Linked DNA regions of Homo sapiens: all the other regions are reported to be linked to region 1. Evidence: microRNA targets listed by miRTarBase, many of them from high-throughput screens and not tested one by one. Region 1 holds a microRNA gene; each other region holds the end of a gene's coding sequence. Distances are between the middles of the regions.
The links. The annotated mature microRNA hsa-miR-3187-5p reads CCUGGGCAGCGUGUGGCUGAAGG and lies in region 1 at 1,127-1,149, opposite strand. An mRNA with a match to its seed (bases 2 to 7 or 8) in the 3' UTR can be bound and repressed. Matches are read on the target gene's strand: a 7mer-m8 pairs with bases 2 to 8, a 7mer-A1 pairs with bases 2 to 7 and ends in A, and an 8mer does both.

Region 2: the mRNA of PDE12 is a reported target of hsa-miR-3187-5p. Seed matches in the 3' UTR shown: 7mer-m8 at 1,049-1,055.
Region 3: miRTarBase lists RHPN2 as a target of hsa-miR-3187-5p. Seed matches in the 3' UTR shown: 7mer-m8 at 1,824-1,830.

Annotation. Positions count from the first base shown.
Region 1 is chr19:811,739-814,738 of GRCh38, reverse strand. It overlaps MIR3187 (microRNA 3187), which reads right to left and starts at 1,155; the gene lies at 1,086-1,155. PTBP1 (polypyrimidine tract binding protein 1) reads right to left here. Exons shown (of 15, transcript NM_002819.5): 15 at 2,427-3,000. PLPPR3 (phospholipid phosphatase related 3) reads left to right here. Exons shown (of 8, transcript NM_001270366.2): 6 at 1-47; 7 at 132-305; 8 at 844-2,251. The coding sequence ends at 2,169.
Region 2 is chr3:57,559,316-57,562,666 of GRCh38, forward strand. It overlaps PDE12 (phosphodiesterase 12), which reads left to right. Exons shown (of 3, transcript NM_177966.7): 2 at 1-73; 3 at 247-3,351. The coding sequence ends at 689. Among named protein-coding and RNA genes, the nearest start is that of PDE12, 4.7 kb to the left of the region's middle.
Region 3 is chr19:32,977,299-32,980,649 of GRCh38, forward strand. It overlaps RHPN2 (rhophilin Rho GTPase binding protein 2), which reads right to left. Exons shown (of 15, transcript NM_033103.5): 15 at 1,294-2,958. The coding sequence ends at 2,698. FAAP24 (FA core complex associated protein 24) reads left to right here. Exons shown (of 5, transcript NM_152266.5): 5 at 1-931. Among named protein-coding and RNA genes, the nearest start is that of FAAP24, 6.7 kb to the left of the region's middle.

The sequences.
Region 1 (3,000 bases):
CGTCCCAGCACGCCACGCTGTCAGCCTTCGCCGCGGTCTATGTGTCGGTGAGTCCGGCCCCTCACTGCCCTTCCCAGGCCCTCTTGCTGACCCGTGGGGAGCCCTCCCTGACCCCAACCCCCATGCCCCAGATGTACTTCAACTCGGTCATCTCGGACACCACCAAGCTGCTGAAGCCCATCCTGGTCTTCGCCTTTGCCATCGCCGCGGGCGTATGCGGGCTCACGCAGATCACGCAGTACCGCAGCCACCCTGTGGACGTGTATGCCGGCTTCCTCATCGGGGCGGGCATCGCTGCCTACCTGGTGAGTGGCAGGTTCTGATGGGGGTCGGCATGGGTTCCCAGGGGATCTGAGGGGGGAGGCATGAGTGCCCACAGGGCCTGAGTGGGGAGGCTGGCCCAGGGGTCTGAGGTGGGAGGCAGGCTCAGGGGGTCTGACAGGGGAGGCTGGTAGCCTGAGGGGTGAGGCATGGTTCCCAGGGGTTCTGGCGGGGGGCTGGCCCAGAGGGTCTGAGGGGGGAGGCATGGGTGCCCAGGGGCTCTAGGGGGGAGGCACGGGTGCCCAGGGTGTCTGAGGGGATAGACGTGGGTCCCGAAGGGGTCTTAGGGGGAAGGCATGGGTGCTGAAGTGTCTCGCCCTTGGAATGCTGGAGTCAGAATCCCGTGGGCTCAGACCTGCCCGATGTGCTGGGTCAGCAACCTTGGGGTGGGAACCGGTCCCACTGGACAAGAGCTTGCCAGCCCCCACCCCCGGTCCAGAGCCCCCCGCGGCAAGTCCAACGATCACAGGGGAGGAGCCCTCTGAGCCCCAGGCCTCACCCCCAGACCCCTCTCCCCGACAGGCCTGCCACGCGGTGGGCAACTTCCAGGCCCCACCTGCAGAGAAGCCCGCGGCCCCGGCCCCCGCCAAGGACGCGCTGCGGGCCCTGACGCAGCGGGGCCACGACTCGGTTTATCAGCAGAATAAGTCGGTGAGCACCGACGAGCTGGGGCCCCCAGGGCGGCTGGAGGGCGCGCCCCGGCCCGTGGCCCGCGAGAAGACCTCGCTGGGCAGCCTGAAGCGCGCCAGCGTGGACGTGGACCTGCTGGCCCCGCGCAGCCCCATGGCCAAGGAGAACATGGTGACCTTCAGCCACACGCTGCCCAGGGCCAGCGCGCCCTCGCTGGACGACCCCGCGCGCCGCCACATGACCATCCACGTGCCGCTGGACGCCTCGCGCTCCAAGCAGCTCATCAGCGAGTGGAAGCAGAAGAGCCTGGAGGGCCGCGGCCTGGGGCTGCCCGACGACGCCAGCCCCGGGCACCTGCGCGCGCCCGCCGAACCCATGGCGGAGGAGGAGGAAGAGGAGGAGGACGAAGAGGAAGAGGAGGAGGAGGAAGAGGAGGAGGACGAGGGCCCGGCCCCGCCCTCGCTCTACCCCACCGTGCAGGCGCGGCCGGGGCTGGGGCCTCGGGTCATCCTCCCACCGCGCGCGGGGCCGCCGCCGCTGGTGCACATCCCGGAGGAGGGCGCGCAGACGGGGGCCGGCCTGTCCCCCAAAAGCGGCGCCGGGGTGCGCGCCAAGTGGCTCATGATGGCCGAGAAGAGCGGGGCGGCAGTGGCCAACCCTCCGCGGCTGCTGCAGGTCATCGCCATGTCCAAGGCTCCGGGCGCGCCGGGCCCCAAGGCGGCCGAGACGGCGTCGTCGTCCAGCGCCAGCTCCGACTCCTCGCAGTACCGGTCGCCGTCGGACCGCGACTCCGCCAGCATCGTGACCATCGACGCGCACGCGCCGCACCACCCCGTGGTGCACCTGTCGGCCGGCGGCGCGCCCTGGGAGTGGAAGGCGGCGGGCGGCGGGGCCAAGGCGGAGGCCGACGGCGGCTACGAGCTGGGGGACCTGGCGCGCGGCTTCCGCGGCGGGGCCAAGCCCCCGGGCGTGTCCCCCGGCTCGTCGGTCAGCGACGTGGACCAGGAGGAGCCGCGGTTCGGGGCCGTGGCCACCGTCAACCTGGCCACGGGCGAGGGGCTGCCCCCGCTGGGCGCGGCCGATGGGGCGCTGGGCCCGGGCAGCCGGGAGTCCACGCTGCGGCGCCACGCGGGCGGCCTGGGGCTGGCGGAGCGCGAGGCGGAGGCGGAGGCCGAGGGCTACTTCCGCAAGATGCAGGCGCGCCGCTTCCCCGACTAGCGCGGCGGGGCCGGGGGCGGGCGGGGGGCGGGCCGAGGGCGCGGGCGGCCGCGCGGATGCTCAATAAAGCGGCAGAAACCGAGGTCCGGCTCTTGGTCATTCGCTCTGGCCCGCACGCCCCACGCAGGGACCCCCACTCTCAGGGCCGGGCCCACCCCGCCCGTGGCCCCACCTGGCGCTTCGGCGGACACCCGGGCGGGAGTCGGGGCCGCCCGCGGCACAGAAAGAGGAAGCCAGCAACGAAGGCGGAACGGAGCGAGGATACAGAAGATTTATTCGAAGTCCAGGTACAGACTGGCCAACCTGCCTCTACAGCGTCCACAGCGAACACAGGGCTAGACAAGGGAGGAGTTTCTCAAACGGTTTTAATCGGTTCTCTCCGCGTCACAAGCCATCGGGTAAGGCAACGGAATGTGCGTGGGGTCCCCTGTGGCTCCGCGGTCACAATACTGAGCCTGGAATTGCTGTTAGCAAAATATACATTTGTGTCACCATAAAAAACCGCGCCGCCGCCCCTCGGGTCTCACAACAGGTATAAAAAATTATAAATATTTACACCCTTGTTACACGCTTTTACGGAAAGGGGATCCTAGGAGAGCCCCCGGGACAGGACGCGGGGGCGGTAGAAAGAGCACAGAGAAGACAGGAGGAGCGCCCGCCTTCCGGGTCCCAGCATCAGAGGCAGGCAAAACACAGAAATGAGACTTTGGTCCAAAATTTGAAGGAAGAAAAAACCCTGAAGTTTGAGAGCAAGTTTTCTAGGCGACTGCAGGTGAAGGCGTGGTGTAAGGCAACCGGAGGCGATGCCAGAGGCGGCGACACGCCCGCCCC
Region 2 (3,351 bases), not on the chromosome of region 1:
GTTCTTCAGTCTACAAAGGACTCTTCTAAAAGGATATGTGTTGCTAATACCCATCTTTACTGGCATCCTAAAGGTAGGTTTTATTTGGTATCACAAGTGACTTAAACACGCTTAAAGTTGTTTAAAGTGTTTTACACAAATGCATATCTTGAACGTCACCCAGAGACTGTAATTTGTGTAGTTTTTCTTTTTTAACTTAAAGACAACTTTAAAAAATACTTACATTAATGTTTTTTATATTCATAGGTGGGTATATTCGCCTCATTCAAATGGCAGTAGCCTTGGCTCACATAAGACATGTTTCATGTGATCTGTATCCTGGCATACCAGTTATATTTTGTGGGGACTTTAATAGTACACCATCAACAGGAATGTATCATTTTGTCATCAATGGCAGCATTCCAGAGGATCATGAAGACTGGGCTTCCAATGGGGAGGAGGAAAGATGCAATATGTCTCTTACACATTTCTTCAAGCTGAAAAGTGCTTGTGGTGAACCTGCTTACACAAATTATGTTGGTGGCTTTCATGGATGTCTAGATTACATTTTCATTGACTTAAATGCTTTAGAGGTTGAACAGGTGATTCCATTACCTAGTCATGAAGAAGTTACCACCCACCAGGCCTTACCTAGTGTTTCCCATCCCTCTGATCACATAGCACTTGTATGTGATTTAAAATGGAAATAGATGTGTGTTTAATGGAATTGAAGTCTGAAAAGGAAGTAGTTATTTTAGCAGAAAATTTAATATGAATCAAAGCTTATATGTAAACTTCAAGGAGGAATGGTAAAATGTTCAGCCCTCCTAGTTATGTTCCTGATGTCTTCGTTATGAAACTGTTGATGTTTGCATCATACATCTTCTCTTTCCTTGTTTTCCTCTACAATTGGAGGAGAAACAAATATATTTCTTACTAGCAAAATAGAAAATTGAATTATTTTTCTCCAAATTGAGACTCTCAGAAAAGGAAGATTGAATTAGCGTGTTTTTTGTTTGTTTGTTTTTGTTTTTGTTTTTGTTTTTTTGAGATGGAGTTTCACTCTTGTTGCCCAGGCTGGAGTGCAATGGCACAATCTCGGCTCACTGCAACCTCCGCCCCCTGGGTTTAAGCGATTCTCCTGCCTCAGCTTCCCGAGTAGCTGGGATTACAGGCGTGCGCCAACATGTCTGGCTAATTTTTGTATTTTTAGTAGAAATGGGGTTTCGCCACGTTGGCCAGGCTGGTCTTGAACTCCTGACCTCAGGTGATCCACCCACCTCGGCCTCCCAAAGTGTTGGGATTACAGGCGTGAGCCACCGCACCCGGCCCTTGTGTACATTTTTATAAGAGAATTTTTTTAGCTAGGAGTTCAGAATTTTTAAAGTACCATTTGAATGATCTTAATTTTTCTTTCATGACAACACATTCCAAAATGAATCATGCTTATGTACTAAGAGGGAAAATGTATTTAAGTTAAGGGTGAGAGACTTAAGTTATAGGTGACCTTAGAGACCTAAGGTGAGAGACTTGACACATGGAAGGAGTAACATTAGGGTCTACCTCTACCTCAATTTAGTTAGCGATTTACTACAATTTCAGAGCTTTAACAAAAGATAAAAATAAATCGTCACCAATTGTTATTGCTTCTCATCTTTCATTTTTCAATGAACAAGTAAGGTATTTTCATTCTTATTTTTAGGATTTTAGTTTTTAGTGTATGGTACAAATGAACACAGTTTATATTCTAATTCTTACTGCAGCTCATTTTAATTTTTAGGATGCAAGCACAATTTAGTATTCAAAGTGAGTAGCAACATATTCAACTTGATCCCATTGTCTTCAGTTACTCTTGCCCATGAAAAATGTTCATAAATGAACAGGGTATTTGACCATATGATATTAGAAAATACAGCACATTACTTTATGAGAAACTACCTACTGATATGGGCTTGAAATTTTGGATGAATCATTGAGCATTTCTACACTAGAAGTAATTTCAAAATTGTTGGTTTTTATAAACAGGAAAAAGGTTGAGTAGTGGGACTTTTAAGCATCTCTGAAATAAAAAACTTCTTTTTACAGACAAGCATTATAGTTTGAGTTACAGACAACAGTGTGTATATATGTAATATATATATAGTAAAATGAAATTTAAATATGAAGCCAAACTTTTTAAAATTAGAAACTACAAATGGTTATACTGATTAGTGTCTAGCCTAGAGTGGTAACCATGCTTTACTAATTCAGTTATGAAATACATTATTTATAATGCATTAGCTGTATTAGCTGTTGCTTTTTTGATGTTCAGGATAACTATGTTATCTCATTTCTGCATTTAATTAATAGCTCGAGTATTAAAAGCCCACTCCCTTCAAGAAAAGCTTTGATTTTCCCCAGTCATGAAAGCCCTTGTTTCAAATTCTTTAATCTCTGAACCTAGTATCATAAGAATTTCCTCTTTTGATAACATCTGTACTTTCATATTCTGCTCACTATCAAATGTATTGTTAACACTTAGTAAGTTTGAAAATGAAGGGGTTTTATCTGCATTTGACATTGAACCTTGAAGTACTTTAAGTACTCCAAGGGGAAAATTAAAGTGGAAGTTTCTTCGGATCTTGTTTAGAAAAAACTATAAATAAAAAATTGATGCTACCAAATTGTGCCTTCCTAAATAACATTTTTGAGAGCATTTTAACAGCAGTTTACAAATATGTAAATAATAGATTAAAACCAAATCTTGATTCTCTTGTGAATTTTTTTTTCATTTTAAAAATATGTTTTTGGGCTGTTTTCAAAGAAAGATGTTGATAGAACCCTTAGAGTGACTTGGGAGAAAACAAAGTGTCACATCAAAAAGTTGAGAAACATTTTGAAAGAAAAAATTCGAACATGCCCATGAAAAAAGCATACAGCTTCCACATTAACACTGGCTAGATTAAACTCTAGTCAGAAAAACTCAGCACTTAACAGACATTCCATGTCCTATATCCTTAATTTTGATGTTTTCTGACTAAACAATATACTCAGATTGTATACAGGCATTTCACATTATTAGGACATGGAATGTTATTGTGAAGTGCCATATACTGTGATCAAATCTCCAGTATACGGATACGTTAAAATGATTGGAGTCCAAAGGTAGGGAACACTAAGAAAATGTATAAATAGCATACACATTTCTTTGTACTCATGAGTTAGAATGCAGTGTTATTCAGAAATGTCTGTTTAAAGCACCTATGTGATTGCATTTTTCTATTACATTTGGATTTTTTAGTACATTTAATTTTAAGAAAACATGGGAAATCTAGCGACTTTCTATGGTAAACCACATTTTATAATGTCACAAGTTCTTGCTATAGGAATTAA
Region 3 (3,351 bases), 32 Mb from region 1:
CTGCATCTGTCATGGAAAGTGCCTTCTAAAAAGCTTCAGTGGTGGATGTGACCATCTGAAGGAAACAAATGTACAAGGAAGCACTGTGTATCCTAAGCCCTGGGTTCCCAGAGTTTCACCTGCTGTTCATCAGGTCTGGCCTTCATATACCCGTACTGCGAGGGCTGTTTCCAATGTAAATAAATAACTGCGCAACAGTTCCTTCCTCCTTTCCTTTGTTCCTCCCTCCCCCCGGCCTTTTTTTTTGGCAGATGTACAGTTTGTTTATAATCACTGCATATGTCTTCTGCACACAGAAAGTATGAAGTCTGAAGTTCCCACTTAAAGTTGAAAACTCAACGGCCGGGCATAGTGGCTCACACCTGTAATCCCAGCACTTTGGGAGGCCAAGGGGGGTGAATCACAAGGTCAGGAGATCCAGACCATCCTGGCCGACATGGTGAAGCCCTGTCTCTACTAAAAATACAAAAATTAGCTGGGTGTGGTGGCACACACCTGTAATCCCAACTACTCAGGAGACTGAGGCACGAGAATCGCTTGAACCCAGGAGGTGGAGGTTGCAATGGGCCGAGATTGCACCACTGCACTCCAGCCTGGATGACAGAGTGAGACTCCATCTCAAAAAAAAAAAAAAAAAATTTAAAGTTGAAAACTCAACATGCATGAGGCAGAACAGGCTGTGTTTGTATATGAAAGGCCCAACAATGGAAGGATACAAGAAAATGATGGCAGCAGCTGCATCTAGTGAGGGAAGCAGGGGCTGGGGATCAAAAGGTACAAATTGCCCATTCAAAAAATAGACACAGGCCAGGCACAGTGGCTCACACCTGTAGTCCCAGCACTTTGGGAGGCTGAGGTGGGAGGATTGCTTGAGTCCAGGATTTCGAGATCAGCCTGGGCAACATGGCAAGACCCCATCTCTACAAAAAAATCAAAAAAATTAGCCAGGCATGGTGGCTCATGCCTGTAGTCCCAGCTACTCAGGAGGGTGAGGTGGGAGGATTGCTTGAGCCCGGAAGGTTGAGGCTGCCATGAGCCACAATTGCGCCACTGTCCTCCTGCCTGGGTGACAAAGCGAGACCCTGTCTTGAAAAAAAGACAAAAACAAAAAATAAGCACAAAGATACCATCTGTCTTAGAAAATACTAAGATAACTTGACAGCTTTTTAAGTTCTGCTTTGTGAAATGTTAGTAACTAAAAAAATCAGAACATTAGAAACTGTGTGCATTGGGGAGAAACAATTTGAAAGAGGAGGGAATGAAAATGAAATAAAAGTAAAAAGAAATATTAACTCGGGTAAATGAATATGTTTATTTAAATATGTATACAAGCATGGCCCTAGGAGCAGCAGATACACTTTCCCAAAGGTGGTTGCTTCCTTTAAGATATTGCACAATAGAAAATAAACTCTTGTCAATCCTTAAAATTAGTCTTCAATGCTATGTATTTTAGCTATGTAACTTGTACTGTGTCAACAGTGAACCTTATTAGATTCACGGTGTCATCGAACTTATAGCAAGATAAAAATCAATCAGTAGGAATGTCATTTTAAAAAGTAAAATAGTGGGACGGTTGTGGTGGCTCATGCCTGTAATCCCAGCACTTTGGGAGGCTGAGGTGGGTGGATCATTTGAGGTCAGGATTTCGAAACCCGCCTGGCCAACATGGTGAAACCTCACCTCAACTAAAAATACAAAAATCAGCCAGGCATGCTGGAGGGCACCTTGTAGTCCCAGCTATTTGGGAGGCTGAGGTAGGAGAATCGCTTGATCCCAGGGGGCGGAGGTTGCACTGAGCTGAGATCACACCACTGCACTCCAGCCTGGGCAACACAGCAAGACGCTATCTCAAACAAAAAAAGGAAGTCAAATAGAGCTTTAAACCTGAATCATTTACATCTTTACTTTATAAAATGTAAAACTACTTTTTTACCCAAGACTTAAAATATAGAATTATGTAACTTCTACTTTAAACAAAATGAAAAATGTTTTGAGTATCAAACAGTATATTATCTACCTTGTAGACAGCATCTTCATCTAACACTGCCACTGTGTTAGTAATTCTTAAATGACATCAAACTAGAAGAAAAGCTGCTCCTACATTGTTTTTATTTAATAAGACAAATTTGGCACTAGACTTTTTCTAGAAATAGCATTCATAGTCTATCGATATAATAGTAACATCTTGTTTTAGGTTAATGAATTCCTATTAGGAAGCAGCACTTTGGGACAGTTTTTAGTGACACTAATTTAATTCTATCATTACAGTCCTCTGACCTGCCTTAATTCCAGGATCATCTGAATTCTAGGTTAAGGAATGATTATTAGCCAAACCTGGAAACAACTACAAATTGTACTGATATAGGTAACCCCAATTTAATAGTGACTAAAAGTCATAATTGTCACCATTAAAAATAGCCATATTTCATATCTTCAACACTATTCTATTTACAATACTTTATATAATAAATAACTTACAGCAGTATAGTAACACACCTCAAAAAAGTTCTTTTTTCACTAATTCCTAGAGGTTTCTTGGTTACTTTCCTTCATAAAAACACATCAAATGTGAGTTTACACTATGAGAAAAACAGGATTTGAGAACAGATAGATAGATATTTTCCATTATGGCACAAACGTTTAAGGCCGAGTCAGCACCGGAAATGTTCAGGGCCTGAACATGTTTGTTTCCTCACATTAGTACCAAGAACTGTCTGAGTTGAGAAGGCTGAAAGGGGAGGGCAGCTTCTTCTTGACCTGAGGCCGTGCAGCCCCGACCGATGGGAGGCACAAGGTGCTGGCTGACTTCTGTCTGTTCTTGTTGGTGCCCCAACTCAGGAAGGAAAGCTTCTTGGAGATTTTCTTGGTTTTATCAGTTTTGTCGTCATCATCAATGGCTAAGCAGATCATGGAGTACGTTTTCTGCATTCCCACGGAGTATGTGGCACTCTTATTATGCTGCACATAGAAAAGTAAGAAAAAGGGCGTCAGGCATCATCAAGATAGATGATAAAAACTACGAAGTTTGGCCAGGCGCGGTGGCTCACACCTGTAATCCCAACAGTTTGGGAGGCCGAGGAAGGCGGATCACTTGAGGTCAGGAGTTCAAGACCAGCCTGGCCAACATGGTGAAACCCCATCTCTACTAAAATACAAAAATTAACCAGGTGTGGTGGTGGATGTCTGTAGTCCCAGCTGCTTGGAGCCTGGGCACAAGAATCACTTGAACCCAGGAGGTGGAGGTTGCAGTGAGCTGAGATCACACCACTGCACTCCAACCTGGGTGACAGAGCAGGATTCTGTCTCCAAAAAATAAATTGAACAGACATAATTCGGAAACTCAGGTGACCA